Linked DNA regions of Homo sapiens. The protein of the gene in region 1 purifies or fractionates together with the protein of each later gene. This does not show direct contact. Each region holds a gene or a part of one and is shown in the gene's direction. Other genes may lie near its edges.

Region 1 (11,534 bases):
GGCCTCAAGCAATCCGCCTGCCTGGGCCTCCCAAAGTGCTAGGATTACAGGTGTGAGCCACTGTGCCCGGCCACAAAGAGGTTCTAAGGAGAGCTTGATGTGTTCAAAAGGACCCAGACCTTTCAGCCGGATAAAACAGTGTTAGTCTCATACTGGCTTTGGGCAAATCACTTTATGTCCCTGAGCCTTAGTTTCTCCAAACCAAGAGGACTCTGGGGAGTATTGTTGGTGTTAAAGGAACTGACACATTCCACTACTAGCCTGGCTTGGTTGCCCGCTAACCAGAAACTTCTACCTTCAGTGCTGCCGTGAGTGAATGCTGTTCATTCCCTTAAATGTCCCTGAGCACTCACTATGTGCTAGGCACCCTGCAGGTGCAGGAGACACCGCCTTTGTGGAGCTGATGGTCTAGTAAAGGGGACAGACAGTGAGCACCGAACAGATACAGATCATCTGTGATTTTGTAATATCCAAACTACAGCATCAGGTGGTGCTATGAGGAACAGTCTAGATTCACACACAGAATGTTGGGGGTGCCATTTTGGACAGGGTGGTAAGGGAAGACTTCTCCACATTTGATGAGATGAAAACGGGGAAATGGGGGCAGCATTCCTGCCCAAGGGAGCAGGAGATGCAAAGGCTGCTGTTTCAGGAGCCTCAGGGGTGCTGGTGCAGCTGGGTGGAGTGCCTTGGGGGAGCTTGGGAGTAGCTGAGGTCTGAGGGAGCCGGGGGCCATGCTGGGCTTCACAGGTCCTGATGTGGCCTCTGGATTCCATTCTTCATGTGATGTGAAGCTTTCATGGGGAGCAGATTGAGTAGGGACCTGATGTGATGTGACTTTTGATTGGAGAAAAATCCCTCTTTTTTTTTTTTTTTTGAGACGGAGTCTCGCTCTGTTGCCCAGGCTGGAGTGCAGTGGCGCAATCTCAGCTCACTGCAAGCTCCGCCTCCCAGGTTCACGCCATTCTCCTGCCTCAGCCTCCCAAGTAGCTGGGACTACAGGCACCCACCACCACACCCAGCTAACTTTTTGTATTTTTTTTTTTAGTAGAGACGGGGTTTCACCGTGTTAGCCAGGATGGTCTCGATCTCCTGACCTCGTGATCTGCCAGCCTCGGCCTCCCAAAGTGCTGGGATTACAGGCGTGAGCCACCGTGCCCGGCCGAAAAATCCCTCTTTTGAGTTTGAGTGGTGAGAGTGGAAGCCTGGGACCTCCTAAGAGACTCCTAGAGTCATCCAGGTGCGAGAAGGTGTCTTGGCCATGGGGATGGCAGAAGAATGGTGGGAAGTATCAGATTCCAGTTGTGTTTTGGAGGAAGAGCTCATGTGATTTGCTGATGGATTGAATGTGAGGTGTGTGACAGAGGAAGAAGAGTCAAAAAGGACTCTTAAGGTTTTGGTTTAAACAACAGTGGTGCCATTTACGGGGTGAGGGAGCCCTGGAAGAGGGGCACCCTGGGGCAGGGGGAATCAAGAGTTTGATTTTGCCTGTACTGTTACTTAATTATAAAAAAGAAAATCAGGCTAGGCATGGTGGCTCATGCCTGGAATCCCAGCCCTTTGGGAGGCTGAGGCAGGAGGATCACTTGAGGCCAGGAGTTCCAGATCAGCTCGGGCAACATAGTGAGATTCAGTCTTTAAAAAAATTAGTGAGGCATGGTGGTATGTGCCTGTAGTACTTAGGAGACTTAATGGGGTGATTGCCTGAGCCCAGAAGTTTGAGGTTGTAGTGAGGCTATGATCCCCTCACTGCACTCCAGGCTGGGTGACACAGCAAGACCTGTTTAAAAAAAAAAAAAGAAAGTAAGCTTAAAATCAATTTTTTAAACTTCGACATGTCCTGAGCAATTATATCTGAGATCATAGGTGCTGCTATCTGTGTAATTTATCTAAAGGATGTTAAAATAAATACATAGCCACTAAAATAAAAAGGTCCATGGGGGTACCACCTATACCCATTGCATACACCCAGCTGCTGCCCTAGCACATTGGAAGTGCCAACAATGATTATTAGCCCCTTTAAGAATGAATGAGGAGCTCTTTAGGATGACGACATGGAGAACCTTCAATGAAAACTCCGGTGGGAGAAGTGGGGGCCAGGAGTGGAGCTGGTCTCAGAGAAGTGGGTCATCCGGAAGGTTGGAGGTGGTGGGGGCATTGGGGCCTTGGAAGCTTTTTGGAGAGAAAGGTCTGCTGCTCCCCTGCTCCGAGCCCTCTTCCTGGGGTTGTGAGTCTCCCTTTCTGAGCTTCCTTTTTGCTTCTAAGGAATGTGGGTGCTTTTACCACAAAAACACTTGGCCTTTTCATAGCATAATTTGGTATTCAAGCTGTGGCCTGAGCTTGGAACCATTCTTTGTCCATTTCTGCTGCCCAGGACTTTGAGATGAGTCTGTGTGGGTACTTTGTGAACTATTATGTGACATGGACACATATATACATGAGGAGTGAATGCTTACATCATGCACAGGGTGTTTGTAAAGGCCTTGTTGGGTTAAATACTGTTGGATCACTGTAGAAGCTTTTCATACCGAAACATTAATTTTGGAAACTCCTTCACAAAATCAAATCAAAATTAGGTCTTTTGAAACAGGCTTCTTAACGTATTCTTGTGAAATTTCTCATGAGCAGTTCATTTCTCAGACATGGAAGAGTTAAGTCCTGCGTTCGCTGTTGTGTGTGTTGCAGTGGCTCCGCGATGAGGCTGTGCTGAGTGAGAGACGCCCCCTTCTCAGCTTCTCGCAGACTCTTGCTCCCTGCGCTCCAGCGCCGCTCACGGCTGGTGCTGGCAGGCCTGGCATTTGGGGGCGTGGGAGAAAGTATGCATCAGTGTGTGCAGGGGTGGAGGGGTGGGTGGTTTGTGTGAATAGAAAGTACATGACCTTTCTGAAAATTGTTCAGAAATGTGGAGGAAGGAAGCGAGAGACTTGGCAGTCCTGTAGGCTTTAATGGAATCAGCAATGGACGCTCGGTATGGCTAATCCTCGATGGAGATGGAAAGGGACGGGAGAACACGATCCAAGCCTACTCAGCTGCAGCAGCGTGAGTCCGCTGGGGAACACGGAGAAGACCAGATACTCTCACTCCCACTTGGTAGAACCTCCTGAGGTTCTCCGGCCACTGTAGTGAACCAGTGTCTGGCGAGCGCCCGAATTACGTGAGAAACTGCCCATGTGTCATTGGATCTAAGACACCAATGTTTTAAGGACACGTCAGTGTTTTGTCTATTGCTCAGAAAGAGAACTCACAGCTAATTAACTTGTAACATACCAACTCCAGAGACGTTAACATGTGGAAAATGTAGGTCTTCAAATCAGTGAAATAAGGTAATCTAATTAACAATACCAGGCTATAGCACAATGGTTGCCACAGGGCCACTTTGGGAGGCCAAGGCGTGTGGATCACAAGGTCAGGAGTTCAAGACCAGCCTGGCCAAGATGGTGAAACCACGTCTCTACTAAAAATACAAAAAATTAGCCGGGCATGGTGGCACGCACCTGTAATCCCAGCTACTCCAGAGGCTGAGGCAGAGAATTGCTTAAACCTGGAGGGGCAGAGCTTGCAGTGAGCCAAGATCGCGCCACTGCACTCCAGCCTGGGCGACAGAGTGAGACTGTCACCAAAAAAAAAAAAAAAAAAAAAGGAATCATTTGAGTGAAAGATAGTTTCTTGAAGATGGTCAGTGGATGATTGAGGTTTGGGAATCATGGGCCTCTGGCCCTAGTTGGATTTGAGCAGTGCCTTTAGGGTAGATAGGACTTAAAAAGACAGAAAGGGACAGGCTTTGCCTTACCATGGGTACTTTTACATATGCTCTTTGGGTAATTTTTTTCTTACTCTTTCTTTATTTTTTTTTAATTTATTTTTTATTTTTGAGACGGAGTCTTGCTGTGTCGCCCAGGCTGGAGTGCAGTGGCGCCATCTCGGCTCACTGCAAGCTCTGCCTCCCGGGTTCACACCATTCTCCTGCCTCCGCCTCTGGAGTAGCTGGGACTACAGGCACCCACCACCACGCCCACCTAATTTTTTTGTATTTTTAGTAGAGACGGGGTTTCACCGTGTTAGCCAGGATGGTCTCAATCTCTTGACCTCATGATCTGCCCGCCTTGGCCTCCCAAAGTGCTGGGATTACAGGCGTGAGCCACTGCGCCCGGCCTCTGGTCACAGTTTTTTAGAGATTGTTTGGAACAGTGAGTAGAAGGCCTTGTCTGTACAAGATACACAGCTGAGTGAGATTGTTAATCTGTCAAAGGGCAAAATTCAAAACTTTCGACAGTCTGGAAGGCTGGGATGAATGCATTAAGATGTAATTCGACTGATATAAATTTAGATTTAAAACAACCTTCTATAGTAGTTTGGCTGGGGGAGACAGACATGGTAGAAACTCACAGGAAAAGGACTTTGTTATTTTACATTACATAGAGGCTAGATGCTCATCTTCTCTTGGGTATATGAAAGCTGTTGATTTGCATACTTTGATTTTCTATCCTGCCGCCTAACTGATTTCTTTTTCTGTTTGCATTAGTTTTTCATTGATTCTTTAGGGTTGCCAGGCGTACTGTCCTATCAACTGCAAATAGAAATGACTTCTTTCCCGGTTTTTATGCTCTCATTCTTTACTCTGTCTAACTGCCTGGGCTAACACCTCCAGTTCTGTGTGAAGTAATAGAGTGGGCAGCCTTGCTATGGCCCTGATCATTTGTTGTTGTTTTGTTTTTTTTTTTTGAGAGGGAGCCTCACTCTGTCTCCCAGGCTGGAGTGCAGTGGCGTGATCTCGGCTCACTGCACGCTCTGCCTCCCGGGTTCCAGCGATTCTCCTTCCTCAGCTTCCCGATAGTAGATGGGACTACAGGCGTCTGCCACCACGCCCGGCTAATTTTTTGTATTTTTAGTAGAGACGGGGTTTTGCTGTGTTAGCCAGGATGGTCTCGATCTCCTGACCTCGTGATTCGCCGGTCTCGGCCTCCTAAAGTGCTCAGATTGCAGGTGTGAGCCACCGTGCCCAGCCTAATTTTTTGTATTTTTAGTAGAGACGGGTTTTCACCATGTTAGCCAGGATGGTCTCAATCTCTTGACCTCGTGATCTGCCCGCCTCAGCCTCCCAAGGTGCTGGGATTACAGATGTGGGCCACCATGCCCAGCCCTATGGCCCTGATCTTAATGAAGTGTTCCCCACTGAGTAAGTTGCCAGCATTAGGGCTGAAGTATACAGAGTAGCATGTTCAGAAAGGAGCCATCAGTTTCTGTTTTCTGGAGTGTTTTTACCAAGAATGGACCAAGACTCCTTAGATAAACAATAGCACTAGTGTCCATACTTACTGACCCAAACACCATTTGCCAGTTTATAAAATAATAAATTCCAGAAATATTACTGCCTCAACATTATGAAAATCAGATTTCCTAAAAAAGTACTTAGCAGTGTTGAAATATCTAGACACTATTCACGGGTACTTAATGAACAAGGCACGTGCTCAGTAGATTGATTGCCGTCAGACACACAGTTTTTCTCATTTGGGAAAGTTAGTTATTCCCACATCAGCCAAATACAGCACAGCATACAGTGGTCAGTAGATCATCAGCTTACTCCTGGTCTCCTGTTGTGAAACGCTCTCAGATGAATTGTTCTTGTGCCATGACACACCAACGTGGCAAGTTCCTCAGTTGCCTGTTTGAGCTTGTTTCTTTCTTTACTTGTGGAAGACAATTTCACTGGCGTTTTTTGTTTTTGTTTTTGTTTTTTGAGACGGAGTCTCGCTCTGTCATCCAGGCTGGAGTGCAGTGGCGTGTGCGATCTCGGCTCTCTGCAACCTCCACCTCCTGGGTTCAAGCAATTCTTCTGCCTCAGCCTTCCGAGTAGCTGAGACTACAGGCGCTTGCCACCACACCCGGTTAATTTTTGTATTTTTAGTAGAGACAGGGTTTCACCATATTGGCCAGGCTGGTCTTGAACTCCTGACTTGGTGATCCACCCACCTCGGCCTCCCAAAGTGCTGGGATTACAGGATTGATCCACCGTGCCTGGCCTCACTGGCCTTTTTTAATAGTGTATGTCTAATGTGGAACAGACCCATAAGTTGCTTGGGTCTTATTTATTTGGCTGGGAAACTATGGATTTTTTTAGAAAGATTCAAGTCCTTGGAAGCCTGTGTCTGTCCCTTATGGGAATTAGATACTGGCAGAGGAGGTAACTGTGATTACAGCATCGAAGACAGGTTTTGCATTGTGGTGACACATTTGTGTTAATATTATTCATCTCATATGAGAGGATGAGTTCATCTTAATCTCATTTTTAATCACAGCCTTCTAGAAAATAGAAATATCTTTTCCTCCCATGCTTTAAAACACCTGTGGCACTTTGGGGTGCTAAATATTGACTTCTTTGGCCATCTTTTCAGGAGGAAGACATGGGATACTCCTGACTGGGTAGATGCTTTTGTATTTCTGCTTAACCTCATAATTAATTTCATTCCAGCTGGTGGCAGGAGACAGACTAGAAAAGGAGCTACCTTTGGAAGTATATTTGCCTGGTTATAGGAGACTTTTGTGAGCTCGCTGGAAATGAAAATATACTAAGCAGATCTAAGACATAGGGGATAATTGGCAACATTTATCAGTTACCTGAAGAATACTTAATTCACTGGTTATTAACTCATTCCCATGGCCCAGAGGCCTTGCACTGCCCTCCCCCCCAGGCACATACGTGCACACATATTTGCAAACACGGCATGGAGCGTCTTTCCCCTGTGCTCACTAGAGAGGCCACACCAGCCTTCTCGTGCTTCCGTAAACCTGACATGCTTTTTTCCATCTTAGGGTCTTTTTACGTTCCGCTCCCTCTGCCTGGAAGCCTCCTTCTCTGCCTTCTAGAAGGTCACTGCCCCATAGTCATTCAGGTCTGGCTCAGACGTCACCTCCCCAGAGAGGTCTGCTTTTCTGACCACTTCATCTAGAGGCCCCCACCGCCCATCACGCTGTGTCCCATTACCATGGTGTGTTTTCTTCCTAGCACGTAGCGCTGTCTGAGATTGCCTTATTATTGTATTGTGTGTTTGAATTCTCTCTCTCCCTAGAAGGGAGGCTTCAAATAAGGAGCCTCTCTGTTTTCTCTTCTGTGTCCGCAGTACCCAGAATACTGCCAGACTGTTGCAAATGCTCAGCAGATATTTATTGAAAGAATGTATGTAGTGATTTAATGTACTGTAATCACATAATATCATATGTGGGTCCGGAAGACCTAAGTTCCCATTTATGTTAAGAGAGGCATTAATTTTGCTTTAAAATGAAACAGTTCAAGATTAGAACTAGACCCAATTTTGTGTTACTGTGAAGCCGTTTTTCTTCTTCTTTTTGAGACTGAGTCTCACTCTGTCATCCAGGCTGGAGTGCAGTGGTGTGATCTCAGCTCACTGCAACCTCCACCTCCTGCATTCAAGTGATTCTCCTGCCTCAGCCTCCTGAGTAGTTGGAATTACAGGTGCGCACCACCACGCCTGGCTAATTTTTGTATTTTTAGTAGAGACAGGATTTTGCCACATTGCCCAGGCTAGTCTCAAACTCCTGACCTCAAGTGATCCACCTGCCTCAGCCTCCCCAAGTGCTGGGATTACAGGCGTGAGCCACTGTGCCAGGTCAGCAGTTTTTCTTTTGGCGTTGCTTGTACTGAAAGTGTTAAATTTAAGCCTGGTGTCATGAGGAGCTGAGCAGAATTGTTGCCATTTCTACTTTTTTTTTTTTTTAATTTAGTTGTGACATACTTGGCTCAGCTAGCACTTACTGCCATTTCATCTTCCTTTTTTTTTTCATTTCCATTAGTAGGGTTTGGTTATACTGTCTATTTTCAAAGGCTATTAGAAGGCGTTAGTAGCTTTTCAGACCTTGTAGTAAAATTGTGTTAATAAAAATAAATAAATAAAAGTCACCCAGTGAAGACATAAATAAGTGTAGAGACACACCATGTTAATGGATTAGAAGACTCAACATAGTGACAATGTCTACTTTCCCCAAATTGATCTGTAGATTTAAAGCAGTTCCAATAAAAATCCCAACAAGACTTGTGGATATAAGTAAGCTGATTCTAAAATTTATATGAAAAGGCAAAGGAACTCAAATAGCCAAAACAATTTTGAAAAAGAGCAAGAAGATAAGGAGACTCACACTAGCCAATTTAAAGACTTACTATAAAGCTACAGTAATCAAGAATGTAGTATTGGTGGAGGGGTAGACACATCGATCACAGGAACAGAATAGAGTCTAGAAGTAGACCCACACAATTCAATGGAGAAAAGCTAGTCTTTTCAACAAATGGTGTTGGAATGATTGGATATTGGAATGAAAAAAAAAATGGACCTAAACCTCCTTCCTACCTTACACAGAAATTAATTCAAAATGGATCACAGATCTAAATGTAAAATATAAAACTATAAAACTTTTAGAAAAAAACATAGGTGCTCTTTGTAACTTGGGACTGGACAGAGAGTTCTTAAACATGACTCCAAAAGCATGAACCATGAAAGAGAAAAAATGGATTAAATGGACTTCATCTAAACTAAAACCTTTGCTCTGCAAAAGACACTACTGAGTGAAATGCTAAGTTACAAATAAAAAGAACTCTCAGAACACAATAGTTAAGAAAATAACCTAATTTAAAAATAGGCAAAAAACTTGCACTTCACCAAAGAGGATGAGTTGGTGCCAAATAAACACGTGAAAGATACTCAGTGTCGTTAGCCGTTAGGAAGTGCAGATTAAAGTCACGATGAGCTACCACTACCCACCTCTTAGAATATCTAAATTCAGAAAAAGACAATACCACATGGTGGCAAGGACGTGGAGCAGCCGGAACTCAACATTGGAAATGCAAATGGTTCAGCTGCTCTGGAAAACAGTTTGGCAGGTTCTTATAAAGTTAAACATATACTTACCATATGAGCCAGCCCTGTCACTCCTAGGTATTTACCCTGGATAAATGAAAAGTTACATTCATACAAAAACCTGTACATGAATGTTTATAGCATATTTCTTCATAGTTATAAGAAACGAAACAGCCCAAATGTCCTTCAGTGGATGAATGGATAAACAAACTTTACTACATCCGAACAATGGTATATTACTCTATGAAAGAGAGAGAGAGACTGTTGATGCACACAGGCTAACAACTTGGATGAGTCTTAGAGACATAATGTTGAGTGAAAGAAGCCAGTCTCAGGAGGTCATGTTTACTGCATCATTTCATTTATGTGACATTGTGTGACATTGTTTTGTTTTGTTTTGTTTTGTTTGGAGACAGAGTCTCACTCCGTCGCCCAGGCTGGAGTGCAGTGGTGTGCAATCTCGGCTCATGGCAACCTCTGCCTCTCAGGTTCAGGTGATTCTCGTGCCTCAGCCTCTTGAGTAGCTGGAATTACAGGTGTGCGCCACCACGCCCGGCTGATTTTTGTATTTTCAGTAGAGACAGGGTTTCGCCACATTGGCCAGGCTGGTCTCAAATTCCTGGCCTCAAGTGATGAGCCCCTCTTGGCCTCCTAAAGTGCTGGGATTACAGGCGTGAGCCACTGCACCTGGCGTTTAATATGACATTCTTAAAAAGACAAAGCCATAGCAGTGGAAAATAGGTTGCCAGGGATTAGGGGAGGGAGTGCGTTGGGAGTGGAGCTGCCCTGTATCCTGAGAGTGGTGGTAGTTACACACATCTCTACATGTGTCAACATTCACAGATGTGCGTGCCCCAGAAGCCAGTTTTACTCCATGTTAATGTAAAAATAAAACAAACTCCCACACCCTGCAGAAGTTGCTCCAGGGTGCAAAATGTAGAGCTGAAGCACCAAAATAGATAAAAGCAGAATAAAACCAATTATATGAAAAAAAGTGAAGTCACTCCTGTCAGTATATAACTAAACAGAAGCTACAATTTGCCACAAAAGCTAACCACAGGCTTTTTATATATATGATTGCAAAAGCCTGTTGAAGTGGTTTCCACATCCTTTCTGGAAGACTTAACAATAACTTTTAAGAAGTTGCACACAGTATCTGTGTGTGTTTTATTTCTTTTACAGATGATTCACTGTTGGCATATAGAAATGCTACTGATTTTTGTATGTTGATTCCATATCCTGCAACTTTTTTTTTTTTTTTTTTTTTTGAGATGGAGTCTTTTTTTGAGATGGAGTCTCGCTCTGTCACCCAGGCTGGAGTGCAGTTGCACGATCTCGGCTCACTGCAAGCTCCGCCTCCCGGGTTCATGCCATTCTCCTGCCTCAGCCTCCAGAGTAGCTGGGACTACAGGCGCCCGCCACCACACCCGGCTAGTTTTTTGTATTTTTAGTAGAGATAGGGTTTCACCATGTTAGCCAGGATGGTCTCGATCTTCTGACCTCATGATCCACCTGCCTCAGCCTCCCAAAGTGCTGGGATTACAGGCTTGAGCCACCGCGCCCGGCCCATATCCTGCCACTTTACTGAATTTGTTTAATCAGTTCTAATAGTTTTTTGGTGGAATCTAGGTTTTTCCAAATATAAGATTATATCGTCTGCAAACAAGGATCATTTAACATCTTCCTTGCCAGTTTGGATGCCCTCTATTTCTTTCTCTTATCTGGTTGCTCTAGCTTGTGTTTGTTTAATATTTCAATAAAGCTTTCAATACAATTTTTTTTTTTTTGAGACAGAATCTCACTCTTGTCGCCCAGGCTAGAGTGCAGTGGCATGATCTCAGCTCGCTGCAACCTCCGACTCCTGGGTTTAAGCGATTCTCCTGCCTCAGCCTCCCCAGTAGCTGGGATTACAGGCATGCACCACCATGCCTGGCTAATTTTTTTGTGTTTTTAACAGAGACAGAGATGGGGTTTCACCAGGTTGGCTAGGCCGGTCTCAAATTTCTGACATCAAATGGTCCACCCACCTCAGCTTCCCAAAGTGCTGGGATTACGGGCGTGAGCCACTGCACCCAGCCAATACAAATTTTATTTTCCTTGAAATTGAACTGTGGTTCTCCCAGTTATTCCAGTTTGCTGTAGTTCTGCATGGTGGTTCTGGGAGTGCCGTTGTGAACAAAGCGCAGTTTTCAGGTGGGAGGCCAGATTTGGGGCAAGCTTTCAGGGAGAGGCAGGGAATTGCACCTGGGCCTTGCATCAAAGTTGTTCCTGGGGCTTAAAAAGTACAGATGCTCAGGATGTACCCTAGGGAGATCTGGGAAATTCAGAAATTGTGTTTAGGCCGGGGATGGGGCCAGGGCCTGGACCGCTGTGTGAGCGTGTTTAAAGCTCTGCAGTGATTATGCTGAACAGCCTGGTTTGAGATCCTATGGGGTAGAATGGGCATTGCAGACAGGCAGGGATGCTGGAATCAGGGTGCCGTTGGGGTACATGAGAGGGCCATCAGCCAGTCCTGGGTAGGGTCATCCTGAAGGAAGACCTCCTGGAGGTGGTGACTCCTGAGCCAAAGAGTCCCGAAGGACCCGGAGAATTGGTAGGGAAGAAGAGGGAGGGTGTTCATGTGGAGGCAAAGAGCAGGGGATGGACAGGGCTGTAGGCATTTGGGAC
Region 2 (11,612 bases), on another chromosome or scaffold:
AGGCGGAGATTGCAGTGAGCCGAGATCTCGCTGCTGTACTCCAGCCTGGTGGGAGACAGCAAGACTCTGTCTCAAAAAAAAAAAAAAAAAGACTCTGTTCTTCTAGAACCAATCTTTGTATAAAATCTGTAAAATCTGTATCAGTCAGGATTCTCCAGAGAAACAAGACAATATTTACATCTTTCTTTTTTATTTCTAAGAATACAAAAGGGTTTTTTTTTTAAAGCAATTGGCTCATGTGATTGTGCAGGCTGTTAAGTCTAAAATCCTTGGGACAAACTGGTGGGCTGGATATGGGGTAGGAAAGGATGTTGCAGTCTGAGTCTCTCATATGTAGGGTAGGTTAGGAACTCAGGAAGGATTTCTGTGTTACACAGACTTGAGGCAGAATTTTTTTCTTTGGGAAACCTGAGTCTTTTATCTTAAGGCCTTCAACTGGATGGATGAGGCCCAGCTACCTTATCAAGGTTAATCTCCTTTACTTAAAGGCAACTTGTAGGGACAAGAGTGACTTTTTATTTTTATTTTTTATTTTTTTTGAGATGGAGTCTTGCTCTGTCGCCCAGGCTGGAGTGCAGTGGTGTGATCCCAGCTCACTGCAACGTCAGCCTACCTGGTTCAAGTGATTCCTGTGCCTCAAGCCTCCTGAGTAGGTGAGATTACAGGTGCCCGCCATCGCACCCGGCTAATTTTTGTATTTTTATTAGAGACGGGGTTCCACCATGTTGGCCAGGCTGGTCTTTAACTCCTGACCTCACGTGATCTGCCTGCCTCGGCCTCCCAAAGTGTTGGGATTACAGGCGTGAGCCACCGCCCCTGGCCAATTTAAAACGCCAATCTACCATGTAAGTTCCCACTAACCCTGAGTTTGAGAATGCCTCCAAAATGTCTAGTTGATGTATTACTCTTTATGTAGGAAGAGCTATTTATTGTAAGTTGCCTCCAAAACCACCTTTGTTGTTGCAGAAATCACAGGCTGTGATACCCACAGCCACCTATACATTCCTTCCAGAGCACGTATGCATTTTTCCCAAGCTGTGTGTCTGGGGGGTTGTGGAGTGGAGATCTACCTGTCTTGCAGCCACTCAAGACCGCAAGACCCAAGACTTCTGTCTGTAAGTTCCCCTAATAAGTCAATAAATATAATCCCCTAATAAATCCCCCAAAATATAATCCCCTAATAAATCATCCAAAACTGACCAACTGGATTTGTCTGCCTCTTTCTTTGGTTTCTCAGCTCCTTCGGCAGTTGGGGGTCGCTTTGTATATATTAATACGACCCTTTCACGGAACACAACTGATTGCAGATGTTAATCCCATCTACAAGATACCTTTATAGCAACATCTAGACTAGTGTTTGAGCAAAGAACTGGGCTTCATAGCCTAACCATGGTGACACATAAAATTAATCATCACACCAACCTATGCTGTTAGGAAGGAGGTCGGTAGTTACTGCTTGGGGAGGGGTGTAAAGACCAGAAGGGACCACAGGAGAGCTTTAAGGGTGTGAGTCATGCTCCCTTTTTCGAGGTGATGATGGCTGCACAGATGTGTTCAGTTTGTGAAAATCCAGTGAGCTGTGTACACTTGTGATACGTGTACATTTTGGAATCTATATTATACTTCATTAAAAAGCAAAATGTTAAGGACAAAGGCAGTAAGACAAAAAGCAATGGAAATAAGAAAAAAAGCCTTACATCAGATATGGAGACTTTAGAAATTGCAAGACATTAACATATATAACTCTATATTAATAAGTTTAAATATTTCAGTGAAATGGCTGATTATTTATTTATTTGAGACAGTGTCTCACTCTGTCGCCCAGGCTGGAGTGCAGTGGCACGATTTCAGCTCACTGCAACCTCTGCCTCCTGGGCTCAAGTGATCCTCTTCCTGCCTCAGCCTCTTGAGTAGCTGAAATACAGGCGTGCACCACCACACCTGGCTAATTTGTTTTCTGTAGAGACGAGGGCTCACTATGTTGCCCAGGCTGGTCTTGAACTCCTGAGCTCAAGCAATGCTTCTACTTCGGCCTCACAAAGTGCTGAGATTACAGGCATGAGCCACCATGCCCAGCACAAAATGGCTGATTTTTTAAAGGAAGATATAAATGATCAAAATTGTCTTGACAAAAGGTAAAAAATCTGAAGAGGCCATGAATAAAATAATTTTAAAAGGTAGTTAAAATTAACTATACCTATCATCACCCAAGGCATGAGGCTGATAAAATTTTGTGAACGTCATCTACAAAATCTTCACGGAATCTTCTACAAAATCTTCATAGGAATCTTTCAGTTCCTATGCTATTTAAACTGGCGCAGAGCAGGAAAAAAAATGTGAAAGCTTCTTAACTCATTGTAGGTTATTTATTTATTTATATTTTTGAGATGGAGTCTCGCTCTGTTGCCCAGGCTGGAGTGCAGCGGTGCAATCTCAGCTTACTGCAACCTCTGCCTCCAGGGTTAGAGCGATTCTCCTGCCTCAGCCTCCTGAGTAGCTGAGATTACAGGCGCTCACCAACACGCCCAGCTAATTTTTGTATTTTTAGTAGAAACGGGGTTTCACCATGTTGGCCAGGCTGGTCTTGAACTCCTGACCTCAAGTGATCTGCCCGCCTCAGCCTCCCAAAATGTTGGGATTACAGGTGTGAGCTGCCACGCCCAGCCTTCACTGTAGGTCGTATTCTTTCCAGAATATGAACTGGAAACCTCCAAGCTTGTTTTTCCAGACTCTTATTAGCTCTCTATTTCTAGTTAGGTTCTGAATTGAGAGACAGTAGGGGATTCAGATGCAGGAGGAAGAAGACCTTTTCTCCAATTTGTGGAGGCAGCTCACATAGCTGAGTAGTGGTGGTGGTGGCAATGGGTGAGCCTGGCTTCCTGCTCGGGGGTGATGTGAACAGCAGCAGTAGCAGCAGCACTCAGCCCTAGCTCCAGCAGTACTAGCAGAGGCTCCAGGAACCTCAGCTGTTCAGAGCTTGTGGGCTCCCATGGCTGTTACTCTGTTGGACGCCTGCAGTGTAAGCTGGAGTATTGGCTCCTGGCTTTCTGCCTGCTGGTGGTAAAGGTGCCAATGTCAGCAGCCTCAGAGTCAATGATGGTAGCACTGGGTAAAACTATTTTCCCTTTCACGCTCCCAGCCCAGAGTTTCCCGTAGTTACTAGTCTCTGGGTAATCTCACATGTTCCCTTTTTGCTCTTAATTAACCCCTTGGATATATATGTAACCAGTTTCCTGTGTTAAATTCTCTCTCTCTTTTTTTTTTTTTTTTGAGATAGTGTCTCCCTGCGTTGCCCAGGATGGAGTCCTGTGGCACAATCTCGGTTCCACCACCACTCCTGGGGCATTTTTTTGTATTTTTATTTTGTATTTTTAGTAGAGAAGCGGGTCTCGCCACGTTGCCCAGGCTGGTCTTGAACTCCTGAGCTCAGATAATCTGCCCGTCTCGGCCTCCCAAAGTGCTGGATTACAGGGTAATTTAGCCACCAGGCCTGGCTGACACGACCACTTTGGAAGACAGTTTGTAAGTTTCTTATAAAACCAGGCCAGGCACAGTGGCTCATGCCTGTAATCCAAGCACTTTGGGAGGCCAAGGCAAGAGGATCGCTTGAGCCCAAGAGTTTGAGACCAGCCTGCTCAACATGGTGAAACCCCATCTCTGCAAAAAACAGAAAAATTAGCTGGGTGTGGTGGCACTGTGCCTGTAGTCCCAGCTGCTCGGGAGGCTGAGGTGGGAGGATCATCTGAACCCAGGGAATTTAAAGCTGCAGTGAGCCACGATTGTCTGCCATGACAGAGTGAGACCCTGTCTCAAAAAACAAAACAAAACCCCAAAAAACAAAACTAAACTTACTCTTACAATATGATCCAGCAATCATGCTTCTTGGTATCTACCCAAAGGAGTTGCGAACATGTCCACACAAAAACCTGTACACAGATGTTTGTAGGAGCTTTATTGATAATTGCCCAAACACAGAAACAACCAGAATGCCCTTTAGTTGGGGAATGAATAAACACTGTTACAGCCTGACAATGGAATATTATTCAGCACTAAAAAGAAATGAACTCTCAAGACAAGACATGGAGAAAGCTTAAATGCATATTACTATAAGGAAAGAAGCCAATCTGAAAAGGCTAGCCACTCCAAGATTCCCATTATATGCCATTCTGGAAAAGTCAAAACCATGCAGTCAGTGGAAAGATCAGCGGTTGCCAGGTGTTGTCGGAAGAAAGGGATGAACAGGAGCACTAAGGATTTTCAGGGCAGTCAAACTATTCCGCGTGATACTATAATGGTGGATCCATGTCATTATATATTTGCCAAAACCCACAGAATAAAACACCAAGAGTGAACCCTAATGCAAACTCTGAATTTTGGGTGATAATGATGTGTCAATGTAGGTTCACTGATCATAACAAAGGTACCACTTTGGTATGGGATGTTGACAGTGGAGGATGCTGTGCATGTGTGACAGTAGGGGTACATACGGGAACTCTATTTTCTGCTCAATTTTGCTGTGAACCTGAAAGTGTTCTAAAAACTAAAGTCTATTTTAAAAAATCCACTGTTTCACCTAATTCAACACTTCACTCCCACTCTGATAATCTCTGGCAACCAATGATCTGTTTACTGTCTGTATTTAAATTTAATTAAAACAATTTTTAAACTGTTTTGATATTTTTATAATAATCAATATATTTTGATTGGACTTTTATAGTGAGCACTTTCTTTGGAAATGAGTGTCTTTGACCTTCAAAAAAGTTATAGTTGTTATCAGTTATCATAAGAGGTGGGGCCCACCTCTTAAAGTAGCAATAAAATCTTATTTATGGTTGAAAAAGGTCAGGTCATTGCGCCACTTCTCTTTGCAGGTTTCTGTGCAATCCATCAGGGGACAGCTGGGACTAATCATTTAAAAAACTTTCCAGCCTGCTAATTTTACCATACCTCACATTTTTGTCATTCCTGGCCAAAATCCAAAGGGCAAGTCCCTTCTGCAGCCTCATTTTTTTTTTTTCTGTACTTTCGCTCCCCTGACGCAAGCTTCCACTGTCTCCCATCCTAACTTTACCACTACGCCCTCTAGAATGCCTTTTCCTGATAAGCAAAACCCCCCGAGTCGTTGGCTCCTCCACTTTCCGGTTTTGGCAGAATCCTTGATCTGAGCCAGGCCTCTTCCCAGGGGCTCTGGCCCTCTTCACTTCCTTTTCCCCGGAGGACTCTGGCTCCCGGGTAGCAAGCAGCCCACTTCCCCGGCCGCTTCCTTCCCCCGGGATGACACGTTTCTACAGGCGGACTCTTCTAATTCATACTATTTCCCTACCCCCGTGGTGGCTCCTAGCACCCCCAGGCCTGTTCTACCTGTAAAATCTTGACACATTTAAACTACTACTTCTGATCCTTTCCTCCCCGTCCAGCCTTCGCTCTTAGGCTGCCGAGCCTGGACTGCTTGTCATCCCCTCAGGCGTCTCCCCGGCCCTCCCTGCTCTTCAGCCGTCCCGACGGAGCGCGGCTCCTGACCAAACCCACGGTTCGTCTTCTCCACCTGCTCCGCGCGCCTCGCATGTGTCTGGGGGGAAACACATCCAAACGTCGACTTAAATGATTCAGGGCCGAGGACCGTGAGAGGCAGTCTTCACTTTTTCATCTTTCTTCATTTGCACAGTATACCAATAAGCTCTTACTACTTCTCAGCACAGGTAACTCGCCTTTTGCAGAGCACCCTCCGCCGCCGAACGGTCAGAGCCTGGAGGAACCCGCACCAGGATCGTAGGGCATGACGGGCCGGGGGCGGGACGAGGATTGACGAGCCGGGAACAGGGCGGGGCTTGAGGGGGCGGGAGGGTGGGGCGAGGCATGACGGCTCTGGTGGGAGGGTAGGCGGGGCTTGACGGGCCTGGGGGCGGGGCGGGGCTTGAGGGACCGGAAGGTGGGGCGAGTCATGACGGGCCGGGGCGTGGGCAGGGCTTGAGGGGCCAGGGGACTGTGTGGGGCCTGACGGGCCGGTGGGTGGGGCGGGGCTTGAAGGACCGGAGGGTGTGTGGGCGGGGCTTGATAGGCAGGGGCGGTGCGGGGGCGTGGGCAGCACAAGCCGTGCGCTCCCGGGCTGCGAGGTCTGGCTAGGCTACGGGCCACGCGCCGCCGCCGCTGCCGCCGCCACTGTCCTCTTCGGAGGCGCGGGCCCGACGGAAACCATGTTTGTGGCTCGCAGCATCGCGGCGGACCACAAGGATCTCATCCACGATGTCTCTTTCGACTTCCACGGGCGGCGGATGGCAACCTGCTCCAGCGATCAGAGCGTTAAGGTGCGCGCGGCGCTTGCGGGCGGGGCCGACCCCGGAAGGAAGGAAGGGGAGTGGGTGGGCGGCGCGGGGAACGGGGCTGTGTCTTGGTTCAGTGACGCCGCTGGAAGCTGTGGGGTGGCGGGCGAGCCCTGGCTGGACTGAGCGGAAGCCCTCCCCGCCCGCGTATTGTGGGGTCACGGCGGCCTCGCGGGCCGCCCTCCCGTGCGCCTGCGCAGCTGGTGCCACGTGCGCGCTCCCGCCCGCAGGGTACGCCGGGCCCTCTCCCAGGCCGCGCTGCCGGGGCTGCGGGCGGGAACCCAGGGGCATCCCACCGTCAGCCTCGGCGTCGTGGGTCTTGCCCGCGCTGTTCACCCGACGACCTGCAGTGGGACCTGGTGGGAGACTTTGCCTGGCTGGCGCTGCGTCGAGTTCTGTGCCCCGCCGGTGTTCTCTCACCAGGGCACATGGTTTTCTCCGTGGGTTCAGAGCAGAAGCTCACTTTGTTACGCCGAGGAAGAAAAATACAAACCATTTACATCCAATGATTTCCCTGCTTGCTGCCCAGGAATCGGAGGGTTTGTTTCTTGAAGTTCCCGTAAACGTCTGTAGACACTTCCGACAAGCAGAATTTCTTTTCTTTTTTTTTTTTTTTTTTTGAGACCGAGTCTCACTCTGTCACCCAGGCTGGAGTGCAATGGCACGATCTCGGCTCACTGCAACGTCCGCCTCCCGCTTTCAGGCGATTATCCTGCCCCAGCCTCCCAAGTAGCAGGGATTACAGGTGCACGCCACCACCCCCGGCTAATCTTTTTTTTTTTTTGTATTTTTTAGTAGAGACAGAGTTTCACCATGTGGGCCAGGCTGGTCTCGAACTCCTGACCTCGTGATCCACCCGCCTCGGCGCCTCGGCCTCCCAAAGTGCTGGGATTACAGGCGTGAGCCACCGCGCCCGGCCTACAAGCAGAATTTCTAATGTGGGGATGCTACATGAGATTTAGGAACCTCCCAGATGTGTTGCAGGATGAATGAAAGCTGGAGTGCGGATTATTTGGTTCTCGACAACTCCAGAGTAACTGGAAATCTGAAGGATAGTTTATCCTTTTTCACATTCGAGTTTGATACCAGTGATCTCTCAAAGATAAACTTTTTATAAATAGTGTTGCAATTTTTAAAAGATGTAGTTTCTTTTTTAAAACAAGTTTATTTTTGTTGTAATAAACTACGTTAACCGTTTTTTTTTTTTTTTTTTTTTTTTTTTTGAGACGGAGTCTTGCTCTGTCACCCAGGCTGGAGTGGGGTGGCGCAATCTTGGCTCACTGCAAGCTCCGCCTCCCGGGTTCACGCCATTCTCCTGCCTCAGCCTCCCAAGTAGCTGGGACTACAGGCGCCCGCCACCACGCCCGGCTAATTTTTTGTATTTTTTAGTAGAGACAGGGTTTCACCATGTTAGCCAGGATGGTCTCTATCTCCTGACCTCGTGATCCGCCCACCTCGGCCTCCCAAAGTGCTAGGATTACGGGCGTGAGCCACCGCGCCCGGCCCACGTTAACCGTTTTAAAGTGTAGAATTCAGTGGCATAGAGCACAGCATTCACATTTTTGTGCAGCGTCGCCCCTGCCCATCTCCAGAACCTTTTCATCATCCTAAACTGAAACTCTGTACCCAAGAGCACCCTGTTCCGCCACCCCATCCTCTGGTAACCTCTATTCTACTGCTTTCTATTAATTTGCATATTCTAGGTACCTCAGATAAATAGAATCATAGAATATTCGCCCTTTTATATTTGGTTTATTTCACTTAGTATAATTTTTTTTTTCTTTTTTCTTTTTCCTTTTTTTTTGAGGCAGAGTCTGGCTCTGTCACCCAGGCTGGAGTGCAGTGGTGCGATCTTGGCTTGTTGCAGCCTCAACATCCCAGGTTCAAGCCATCCTCCCACCTTAGCCTCTCCAGTAGCTGGGACTACGAGTGCACGCCACCACGCCTGGCCAATTAAAACATTTTTTTTGTAGAGGCAGGGTCTTGCTGCGTTGCCCAGGCTAGTCTCGAACTCCTGAGCTCAAGTGATCCTCTCACCTCAGCCTCCCAGAGTGCTGGGATTACAGGTGTGAGTCACCTTGCCCAGCCCTCTTAGGTCCATTTATTCCAGAGTACTTTTTTTTTAAAGGAGGAGCCATGTATTTATTTGTATATATTTTTAATTGAGCAAGTAATATATTTTTCTTTTTAGAAAGTGAAAAAATTATAGACTTATTGCTAATGTGTTAATATTTATTGATTTCCTCTGTTTTTCCTTTAACGTTTTAAGTTGTCATGGTAGAGTGTGTGTATATACGTATATGTCTTGTCAGAAATAGTGTTGTACTGAAATTTTTCATTAGTTTAGCATTTTATGTATTTTGAATGATTTTCTTAGGCTAATTCTAGAAGATAAATTAGTGGATATTTTAAACACTATTGAAGAGAATTGACAAATTGCTATTTTGCAGGTCGTACCGTTTTATACCGCCAGTGATAGTATTGATTTGATAGTGTTATTGCCCTCGTTACATTTTTAACAGGTGAAATTGGCACCTTCTTATTGTAATCTATATTTTTTCTGGGTAATAAGGTTTAATTTTTTTGTTTTGAGATGGAGTCTTGCCATGTTGCCCAGGCTGGAGTGCAGTGGCTATTCACGGGCGTGATCATAGCCTTAAACTCCTGGGCTCAAGTAATCCCTCCTGCCTCAGCCTCTTGAGTAGCTGGGACTACAGGTGTGCACCACCATGCCTGGTTTCAATATTTTTGCTTTACCATTTGTTACATGTACAGTTGAGCCTGTTGTTTGTAGATTCTGTATTTTTTGAATTTGTCTACTCTGAAATTTACTTGTACCCCAAAAGTCACACTGGTTTTGCAGTCATTTGTGCATGTGTGAGGAGTGGTGAAAAAGTTTGAGTCTCAGGACAGACGTTTCCCATTGAGGTGAAACCAGGCGATACTCTATTTTGGCTCATACTGTAAGCAGGTGTTTTTCATGATTTATTTAGTGCAATGATTATTTGTTCTTTCTGTTGGTGATTTTGCTGTTTAAAATGGCCTCCAAGCGTAGTGACTGTAACTAATTGTCTCTGTTACCTAATAGAGCTCAGCTTCCTGAATCCCTTGGTGCTTGGCCCAGTGCTTGACACATTCAAGGTTCTCAATGTAAATTTTTTGAGACGGAGTCTTGCTTTGTCTCCCAGGCTGGAGTGCAGTGGCGTGATGTCAGCTCACTGCGACCTCCGCCTCTGGGGTTCAAACGATTGTCTTGCCTCAGCCTCCCTAGTAGCTGGGACTATAGGCATGCGGCACCATGCCTGGCTAATTTTTGTATTTTTAGTAGAGACGGGGTTTCACCACGTTGTCTAGGCTGGTCTCGAACTCCTGACCTCAGGTGATCCGTTTGCCTTGGCCTCCCAAAGTGCTGGGATTACAGGCATGAGCCATCGCACCCAGCCTCTCAATAAATACTTAATTGAATGAATGAATGTTTACTTGCTGATTGTGTTCTTTTGTTAACTATATGTTCACCGCTTTCCTTGTACACTGATTCAGTCTTATAGTTTTTGTATCAATTTGTAGGAATTTTTGTATAAAATATCTGCCTTTTATTTTCTTATAGGTCTGGGATAAAAGTGAAAGTGGTGATTGGCATTGTACTGCTAGCTGGAAGGTTAGTATTTATTTTTACATTTATTAAAAATACAGAAATATTTACTGTTTATTTTATAGTTATCTATGAATTGTTTTGAGAAAATAACATTTATACAGTAGTTCTTTTCCTGGGAAGACATTTTACTGTTTTTCGCTATTAAAGTAACAACTGTGTTTCTCAGAATTTGAGAGTAAGAAAATCTGTAATTCTGTAGCATTCTAACATAATTATCTTAGTAATTCAGAATATTCCTTTTGCCTTTACATATTTTAATTGTTGTGATGTTTCATACATAGTTTTCTCTTAAAAAAAAAAAACAAAACCTTTACTCAAGTAGAAATTTTCTTTTTTTTTTTTTTTTGAGACGGAGAGTCTTGCTCTCTTGCCCAGGTGGGAGTGCAGTGGCGTGATCTTGGCTCACTGCAACCTCCGCCTGTTGGGTTCAAGTGATTCTTCTGCCTCAGCCTCCCAAGTAGCTGGGACTGTAGGCGTGCACCACGATGCCCGGCTAATTTTTGTGTTTTTAGCAGAGATGGGGTTTCGCCATGTTGGCCAGGCTGGTCTCAAACTCCTGACCTCAGGTGATCCTCCCTCGGCCTCCCAAAGTGCTGGGTTTATAGGCATGAGCCACTGTGCCCGGCCAAGTAGAAATTTTCATACCTTAAAAGTCATCCATTTTAAATGTACAGTTCAGTGAGTTTTAGTAAACTTACATAGTTGTGTAGTCATCACTGTAATCCAGTTTTAGAACTTTTCTCTCAAACTCAGAAATTCCTTTGTATCCTATTCCCACTCCAAGCCCCAGGCAACCACTGATCCATTTTCTGTCTCCATAGGTTTCTTCTCTCCTCTGCCCTCCCTCTCCCCTCCCCTCCCACCCTCTCTTCTCTTCTTTTCTTTTTTTTTTTTTTTGAGCTGGCGTCTTGCTCTGTCGCCCAGGCTGGAGTGCAGTGGTGCGATGTTGGCTCGTTGCAACCTCTGCCTCCTGGGTTCAAGCGATTCTCCTGCCTCAGCCTCCTGAGTAGCTGGGATTACAGGCGCATGCCACCACACCCGGCTAATTTTTGTAGTTTTGGTAGAGACAGGGTTTCACTATGTTGACCAGGCTGGTCTCGAACTCCTGACCTCAAGTGATCCGCCCGCCTTGGCCTTCCAAAGTGCTGGGATTACAGGCTTGAGCCACCATGCCTGGCCTGGTTTATCCTTTCTAGAAATTTCATAGAAATGGAATTTTGAAATACATAGTCCTTTGTGTCTGGCCACTTTCCCTTTGCATGTTTTGAGGTTCATCCATATTGTGTCATGTGTCAATTTGTTCCTTTGATACTGAGTAGTCCGTTGTATGTATATTGCCACGTTTTGTTTGTCTGTTCACCAGTTGACGGACATTTGAGTTGTTGTTTTTGGCTGTTATGAGTAATGTTAAGAACGTGCCATGTAAGTCTGTGTAGACATATATTTTCATTTCTTTTGGATAGATGCGTAGGAGTGGAATTGATGGGCTATATGCACTTAGCTTTCTAAGAAACTGCGAAACTCTTCCAAAGTGGCTGTGCCCACCAGCCATGTGTGAGGTTCCAGTTTCTCTACATCCTCACCTACACTCGATAATATCTGTCTTTTTTATTATAGCCATTTTAGTAGTTGAGAAG
Region 3 (8,262 bases), about 21 Mb from region 1:
CATGATTGGGAGCTTCCTGCGGCCTCCCTAGAAGCAGATGCTGCCATGCTTCCGGTTGGCCTGCAGAACCATGGGCCAATCAAACTTCTTTTCTTATAAATTACCCAGTCTCAGCTATTGTCTCACAGCAGTGTGAGAACAGATGAATATAGTATTCTAGGTGGGAAATACCAACGCTGCTTTTTCCCTGTTCTCTTGGGTGGGACAGGAGGACGCCCTGCACTGCTTCTTCCAGCCCAGGGAGTTATCAAGCAAAAGCAAGTGCTTCTGTGAGAACTGTGGGAAGAAGACCCGTGGGAAACAGGTACTCATTCCCTAAATCAGACTCAGCTGTCCCTCGGTGCATATGGGGGATTTGTTCCAGGACCCCTGCTTTTACCAAAATCCACACACACTCAAGTCACACCCAGTCGGCCCTGTGGAACCCACGTATAGGAAAAGTCAGTCCCTCATCTATGCGGTTGTGCATCTGGGATACTTTATTTTTGATGAGCATTTGGTTGCAGATGTGGAACTCGTGCCTATGGGGGAGGGCAGACTGTATTTATTTACAACAATTTGTGTATAAGCGGACCCATACAGTCCAAACCCGTGCTGTTCAGGGGTCATCTGTCCTTCACTAGTCTGGGGTTGCCCCCCGTGGATTTCCTGATAGAATCATCAGAGGCCCCGAGGACACCCCATGGTGGGTGAGAAAGGGAATCTGGGTCTGGCTAGTATCTGGGACGCTGTGGTTCTGATATCTGGAGCCGTGGATGTGGCTTCTCATGTCGCATCACTGAGAGGGACTGCAGGAGGGCGCCTGAGAGCAGCCGGCAGGGCGTTTCCCTCCAGGCGAGACCAGCTCCCTGGAGCAGACGCGGTGGCTCCCTGGGTCCTGGTACCTGTGCAGAGCCCTGTGCCCTTGTGCCTCTTGTGGGGGGCCACATGGTGGTAGAATAGCCAAGTTTTGCATTATTCTCAGAGGAGCTCAGCAGATTCGGCGAACAGGAGCCTTGAACTCCGTGATGTCGCCCCGCTCCCCTCTTTTTGGGAAGAACGCGTTGCTAGCCCTGACATTTCTCTGACTCTCTCATTCCAAGTAGACTTCATCTCCAGAGTGATTTTGATTTTTCAGGTCTTGAAGCTGACCCATTTGCCCCAGACCCTGACAATCCACCTCATGCGATTCTCCATCAGGAATTCACAGACGAGAAAGATCTGCCACTCCCTGTACTTCCCCCAGAGCTTGGATTTCAGCCAGATCCTTCCAATGAAGCGAGAGTCTTGTGATGCTGAGGAGCAGGTGGGATGATCCCGACCTCCTTGCCATCCTGCCTCTCCCCAGATGCCATGTCCTTTCTGTTTTCCCTTCCTTCACCCCCAGTCTGCTAGGAGCCACCTGTTCCTCAGAGACTGTCCCCAGCCTCAAAAGCCTTTCTTCTTTCTAAATATTGGATTTGTGTTCATATGCCTCACAGCACTGAGGGACAGAATCCAGAATTCAGTAGGCTTCTTTGGAAATAATGTGGAATACATAGAAATGCATAGGCAAACATGTCATTGTGGGTTCATAGTACCAACCAAACTTTCTTCCTCAGATGGCCTGTGCCCACTTTGAGGATAATCATAAAGTAGCCAGTTGACTGGACCACATTTAATCAGAGTAAAGTTTAATTCACTTGTCCTGAGATAATAACTTATCAAGAGATTCTGAGAAAAAAAGAGACACAAGGCCAGGTGATGTGGCTCATGCCTGTGATCCCACACCTCAAAAGGCTGAGGCAGGAGGATTGCTTGAGCCCAGGAGTTCGAGACCAGCTTCAGCAACATAATGAGACCCCCGTCTCTCAAAAAAAAAAAAAAAAATTAGCTGGGTGTGGTAGCACAAACCTTTAGTCCCAGCTACTTGGGAGGCTGAGTTGGAGGATCACTTGAGCCCAGGAGTTTGAGGCTGCAGTGAGCTATGATCTATCATTGTACTCCAGCCTGGGCAACAGCGCAAGACCCCGTCTCTAAAAACAAAACAAGAAAAACTAAAAAAAAAAGACACAAATATCTTTTTTTCCATAGATTTGAAATGCTACATAACAAATTTTGTATTCCTGTATGTACGGGTCTATTTTTGGAGTGTCTCTTCTGTTTTATTGGTCTGTTTGGCTATTTATGCTCTAGAACCATGACATTTAGAAAATTAAGACCTGATAATATGTTACAATAGCTCCTATTATAACATGATTTCTTTACCTACTTAGGCCGTATACATTTCATAGGATTCTCTTTTTCTTTCCTTCTAGTTCTTTTTATTTCTACCTGCAGATTCTGCCCAATGAAGTGTATTTAAAATTGTTTTTCACTTAAAAAAGACTTTTTTGACTGGATGCAGTGGGTCACGCCTGTAATCTCAGCTCTTTGGGAGGCCAAGAGGATTGCTGGAGTCCAGGAGTCGAGCCCAGCTGGACAACAAAGCAAGACTCCATCTTTGCAACAACAACAAAAAAGACTTTGTTATGGAACATTACAAATAGATACCAAAGTGTGTAGTGAAGGAAGAGTTAGACAGTGAATCCTTGGCTGTAACAGTTACCAAAACTCATGGCAGGTCTTGCTTTTCCTATAACCCACCCTCTTGTTTCACCCAACCCTGTACTGGATTTTTTTGAAGCAAATCCCAGACATCATACTATTTCATTTATAAACACTTCATTATGTATCCCTAAAGAATAAGCACTCAAAAGATAATCATCTCCATCTTGCAATTCCTTAATAGCATCAAATATCTGGTCAACGTTCAGACTTCCTGACTGTTGTGTAATCTATGTGGTTTGTTTGACTCTAGATCCAAACAACGCCTACACTTGCATTTGGTTAAGTTTCTTTCTTTTCTTGAGTTCCTTTTAGATTTCCGCTCCTTTTCTTTTCCTTGCAGTTGATTTGGTTGAATATTTTTTTCATATGCCAGCACTGGCTGGTTGATATCTTTTAACATGTTCCTGTAACCCTTTTATTTCTTGTAAACTAATATTTAGATACAGATATTGCCCTGCATTTTGTAAAGTTCTGCACAAAGTCTGCAAATGGAAATAGGGATAATTTCAGCCTCCACTGTGGGTGACTCAGCTTTGCGTCTGCCGCCCTTGCCCTCTGTCTCCCCTCCCCCTACAAAAGACTTTTTTGGCTGGGTACGGTGGCTCAGGTTAGGGTCATTCCTGGGCTTGTGGAGAAACAGAACTGTGTTCTGATGATCCCCACCCCTCCCAGGGGAAAGTTCTAATCTTGCCTTGGCTTTGGGGGCCTCTCTCATGACCTGCCTTCCATCTCTTGCGTGCTCTGCCCTGCCAAGCTGCTGAGCCTTCGCAGTTCAGGATCCACACTCGGGAAAGCCCCTCCTGGAGGGTGCCCACTGGCTGTGGGTCGGGACTGTTTTCTAATATTCTAAAGTCCCAGAGTCGGGCCTAGTGTGGGCAGGTATAAATGTGTGAGGCAGTCGTGTTTGTGGTGGTGGGTGAACTGTCTCGTGCCTGTCTCTTTCCAGTCTGGAGGGCAGTATGAGCTTTTTGCTGTGATTGCGCACGTGGGAATGGCAGACTCCGGTCATTACTGTGTCTACATCCGGAATGCTGTGGATGGAAAATGGTTCTGCTTCAATGACTCCAATATTTGCTTGGTAAGAAACATCATCCACAATTGCCTCCTGCCCTGGATTGGCCACCTCTAGCAAATGCTGGGCTCAGGGCTGCGTGGGTCTCTGAGATCAAGACACACTGTGATCCTGCTGTCTGGGTGTGGGGCCTTTGATGAGGGTTCAAGCCTTTTTCGGTCTGAAGTCCCCATGTGGTTTGCACCTCTGTAAGGGTTCAATTCACTTCACTTCTAAGTTTTTGGTGCTCTAGGCTCATGCTCTGCAGCTTCCTGCTTTGTGGGAAATGTCTAGAGAGCAACGAGTGTTAGAAATATGTAAGTTAGGCCTCTGGGATAAGCATGACCAAGTTTAAACACAGGGACAAGGGCACTAAACATACTTCATTGCACAAGACATCCTGCTGCTGTTGCTCCAGGCTCTTGGGAGTTGCTAGGGGTGGGCTTGTCTGGAGGATGAGGGGCACATTATAGCATCCTGTCCTCTGTGGGTGCTTGTGTCAGCTGGCTGCTTGACCCCATTTGTTTCTGGCTTCCAGGTGTCCTGGGAAGACATCCAGTGTACCTACGGAAATCCTAACTACCACTGGTAAGAAACAGATTTGGGTAATTGGAGTCTGATGAGCTCACATAGGGTCCTTGGAGCTGCATGAAACGCCCATGGATTCCCCTGTTACTAACATGCTGATGGCTCACTGTCCGCCTCATCTCCAGCACTCACCCCACCACCCCATGTTTGCCTCACACGTCACACTCCAGGAATATTAAAGTACAGGTAGCTGCCAATCAGCCGTGCCCTCCATCTCCCGTCTGCTGTGCACATGCACTTCCTGGCCGTATTGTCCTCTCCTCGTTTACCATCTAGGCCAACTCCCCACTCATGTTTTCATACTCATGGCCTTTTCCTATCCTGTGAAGCCTTTGCTGATTCACCCAGATTCGTAGGGGCTTCTTGTATGGTTTTCTTTTCTTTTCTTTTCTTTTTTTTTTTTTGACGGAGTCTCGCTCTGTTGCCGGGCTGGAGTGTAGTGGCACAATCTTGGCTACTACACTTGGCTCCTCCTCCCAGGTTCAAGCGATTCTCCTGCCTCAGCCTCCTGAGTAGCTGGGACTACAGGTGTGTGCCACCACGCCCAGCTGATTGTTTTTTGTATTTTTAGTAGAGACGGTGTTTCACCATGTTGGCCAGGATGGTCTCAGTCTCTTGACCTCATGATCCACCTGCCTCAGCCTCCCAAAGTGCTGGGATTACAGGCATGAGCCACCACACCTGGCCTTCTTATATGCTTTTATTGCATTTGAGCATACCTCTTTTACAGCGAAGATCTTTTTTTTAATTTAATTTTATTTTTAGAGATGGAGTCTTGCTTTGTTGCCCAGGCTGGAGCACTGTGGTGTGATCATAGCTCACTGCAGCCTTGAACTCCTGGGCACAGGTGATCCTCCCACCTCAGCCTCCTGAATAGCTGGGACTACAGGCATACAGTCTGTACACCATGCTTGGCATATTTTAAAAAAATGTTTGTAGAGATGAGGTCTCGCTATGTTGCCAGGCTTGTCTCAAACTGCTGGGCTCAAGCCATCCATCCATTTCAGCCTGCCAAAGTGCTTGGATTATAGGCATGAACACTGCGCCTGGCCATCACACTGTTTTTTTGTTTGTTTGTTTGTTTGTTTTGAGATGGAGTCTTGCTCTGTCACCCAGGCTGGAGTGCAGTAGCAGGATCTCAGCTCATTGCAAGCTCTGCCTCGTGGGTTCATGCCATTCTCCTGCCTCAGCCTCCTGAGTAGCTGGGATTACAGGCGCCCGCCACCACGCCTGGCTAATTTTTTGTATTTTTAGTAGAGATGGGGTTTCACCGTGTTAGCCAGGATGGTCTCGATCTCCTGACCTCGTGATCCGCCCACCTCGGCCTCTCAAAGTGCTGGGATTACAGGCATGAGCCAATAAATATTTTTATAATCATTAACTACCGAGGAGAAGCTGGAGAGAAAAAAGGTGGATGAAGTTAAGGCAGAGAGACTTTGTAAGTTTCTTAGCTGAGCTTTTGGAGACTGTATATCAGAGATCCTATTTGAGGTGATTTTCAGCTACAGAGATAGGCCTGGTCATTTGAAAAATAATGGATTAGGTGAAGCTTGCGTTTGAAATCCTCCTTCTACTTTTCATCTTTCTCTCTTGTTTATTCTGAACATCCATCTTAGACACCCAATCTTTGTCACTTTGTGGTTGTCATTGATTTCCCTGTTATTGAGATCAGAGGTTGGCAGACTTTCTCTGTAAAGGGCTGGAGAGAAAGTACTTCAGACTTTGTGGTCTGTGCGGTGTCTGTTGCAACCACTTAACTCTGCCCTGTAGAGCAAAAGCAGCCGTAGACAGTACATGGGCAGATGAGCATGGCTGGGGTCCAGTTACATTTACTTGCAAAAAGAGGGTTGGAGACTGGGTGCGATCTCCCACCTTTAATCCCGGCAATTTGGGAGGCCGAGGCAGGAGGATCACTTCAAGCCAGGAGTTCAAGACCAGCCTGGGCAACAAAGCAAGACTCCATCTCTACAAAAAAATAAAAATTATTATAGCTAGGCATGGTGGTACACATCCATAGTCCTAGCTACTCAGGAAGCTAAAACTGAGGCAGGAGGGTCAGTTGAGCCCAGGAGCACGAGGCTGTGGTGAGCTATTATTGTGCCAGTGCACTCCAGCCTGGTGACAGAGCAAGAACGGTCTCGTCAAAAAATAAACAAAAGGCTGGGCACGGTGGCTCACGCCTGTAATCCCTGCACTTTGGGAGACTGAGGTGGGCAGATCATGAGGTCAGGAGATTGAGACCATCCTGGCTAACACGGTGAAACCCTGTCTCTACTAAAAATACAAAAAGTTAGCCGGGCGTGGTGGCGGGCGCCTGTAGTCCCAGCCACTCGGGAGGCTGAGGAGGGAGAATCGTTTGAACCTGGGAGGCGGAGGTTGCAGTGAGCCAAGATTGTGCCACTGCACTCTAGCCTGGGCTACAGGGCAAGACTCCATTAAAAAAAAAAAAAAAAAAACCAGCAAAAACCAAACAAAACATAATGCATGTTCTCTCTTATAAATGGGAGCTAAACATGGGGACTCATTGACTTAAAGATGGCAACAACTGGGAACTGCTGGATGGGGAGGGAGGGGAGGGGTGAAAGGCCAACTGTTGGGGAGTATGCTCATATCCACGTGACAAACCTGCACATGTGCCCGCTGAATCTAAAATAAAAGTTGAAAGTAGATTTAAAAAACCCCAAGAGGGCTGGGTTTGGCTTGTGTGTCCATAGCTTGTTAACCTCCGCTTTAGATATTAACTAATAGAAACATAGTGCTTATCTTCCCAGGCCACCTATTTTGTTCCTCTCCAAGGTGATGGATAGATGAAGGCCTAATCCAGCCGCCTGGAAGTTTGCTGACGCTTGTCCTGTCACGGATTAATGAAGCATTGTTTTCTGATGAAGGTTTCATGCCGCTGTGCTGATGTGTCTTCTCTTCTCTCTAGGCAGGAAACTGCATATCTTCTGGTTTACATGAAGATGGAGTGCTAATGGAAATGCCCAAAACCTTCAGAGATTGACACGCTGTCATTTTCCATTTCCGTTCCTGGATCTACGGAGTCTTCTAAGAGATTTTGCAATGAGGAGAAGCATTGTTTTCAAACTATATAACTGAGCCTTATTTATAATTAGGGATATTATCAAAATATGTAACCATGAGGCCCCTCAGGTCCTGATCAGTCAGAATGGATGCTTTCACCAGCAGACCCGGCCATGTGGCTGCTCGGTCCTGGGTGCTCGCTGCTGTGCAAGACATTAGCCCTTTAGTTATGAGCCTGTGGGAACTTCAGGGGTTCCCAGTGGGGAGAGCAGTGGCAGTGGGAGGCATCTGGGGGCCAAAGGTCAGTGGCAGGGGGTATTTCAGTATTATACAACTGCTGTGACCAGACTTGTATACTGGCTGAATATCAGTGCTGTTTGTAATTTTTCACTTTGAGAACCAACATTAATTCCATATGAATCAAGTGTTTTGTAACTGCTATTCATTTATTCAGCAAATATTTATTGATCATCTCTTCTCCATAAGATAGTGTGATAAACACAGTCATGAATAAAGTTATTTTCCACAAAAGGACTTTGCAGTTTTAACGGGGGGCAGTAGGGATTGTGCTATAGAAATTCAAAGGCAAGGGAAGTCACTTCTGTTGTGGGGCCCTGGGAGGAGCCTCCAGGCTGGAAAGGGTTAAGGTGGAGGTCTCCGATAGGGGCAGCGTACACAGTGGACTGGCTGCAAAAGGCCGTGCTCAGCATTCAGACAGCATCACACACTCCGCTTTTCTCTACCAGGGAGGCAGGTGGGGAAGGATAGCGATGGGAAGGCAGGCGGAGCTCAGAATGTGGAAGGGGATCCAGTAAGACTTGGAAGTTTGCACCTGATCTGGTGGGTGGTGAGGGGCCCTTGAAGGGGCAAGGAGGCGAGGAGCACTCAGCTGTGTTCTTACACTGATCTGCCACTGGGGTTAGAGACAAACGTGGTGGGAATGGAAAGCCACGCACAGTCACTAGCGCCTCTAGGGGGAGAATGGATGTGGCTGGTGAGAGAACAGGGGGGCCCAGGGAGAGTCCGGCACC

Evidence for each region.
Region 2: the proteins of TAB1 (region 1) and SEH1L purify together in Homo sapiens (co-immunoprecipitation; 2 studies listed by BioGRID and IntAct, with this or other methods). This does not show direct contact.
Region 3: the proteins of TAB1 (region 1) and USP18 purify together in Homo sapiens (affinity purification with western blotting; 2 studies listed by BioGRID). This does not show direct contact.

The regions. Positions count from the first base shown.
Region 1 is NC_000022.11:39,402,780-39,414,313, forward strand, and holds part of TAB1 (TGF-beta-activated kinase 1 and MAP3K7-binding protein 1), read left to right. Parts: intron 1-11,534. UniProt on the Homo sapiens protein: Key adapter protein that plays an essential role in JNK and NF-kappa-B activation and proinflammatory cytokines production in response to stimulation with TLRs and cytokines.
Region 2 is NC_000018.10:12,941,928-12,953,539, forward strand, and holds the start of SEH1L (nucleoporin SEH1), read left to right. Parts: upstream 1-6,083; 5' UTR 6,084-6,194; coding exon 6,195-6,305; intron 6,306-9,927; coding exon 9,928-9,978; intron 9,979-11,612. UniProt on the Homo sapiens protein: Component of the Nup107-160 subcomplex of the nuclear pore complex (NPC). The Nup107-160 subcomplex is required for the assembly of a functional NPC.
Region 3 is NC_000022.11:18,169,636-18,177,897, forward strand, and holds the end of USP18 (ubl carboxyl-terminal hydrolase 18), read left to right. Parts: intron 1-208; coding exon 209-304; intron 305-1,117; coding exon 1,118-1,285; intron 1,286-3,514; coding exon 3,515-3,646; intron 3,647-4,157; coding exon 4,158-4,207; intron 4,208-7,136; coding exon 7,137-7,182; 3' UTR 7,183-7,762; downstream 7,763-8,262. UniProt on the Homo sapiens protein: Interferon-induced ISG15-specific protease that plays a crucial role for maintaining a proper balance of ISG15-conjugated proteins in cells. Regulates protein ISGylation by efficiently cleaving ISG15 conjugates linked via isopeptide bonds.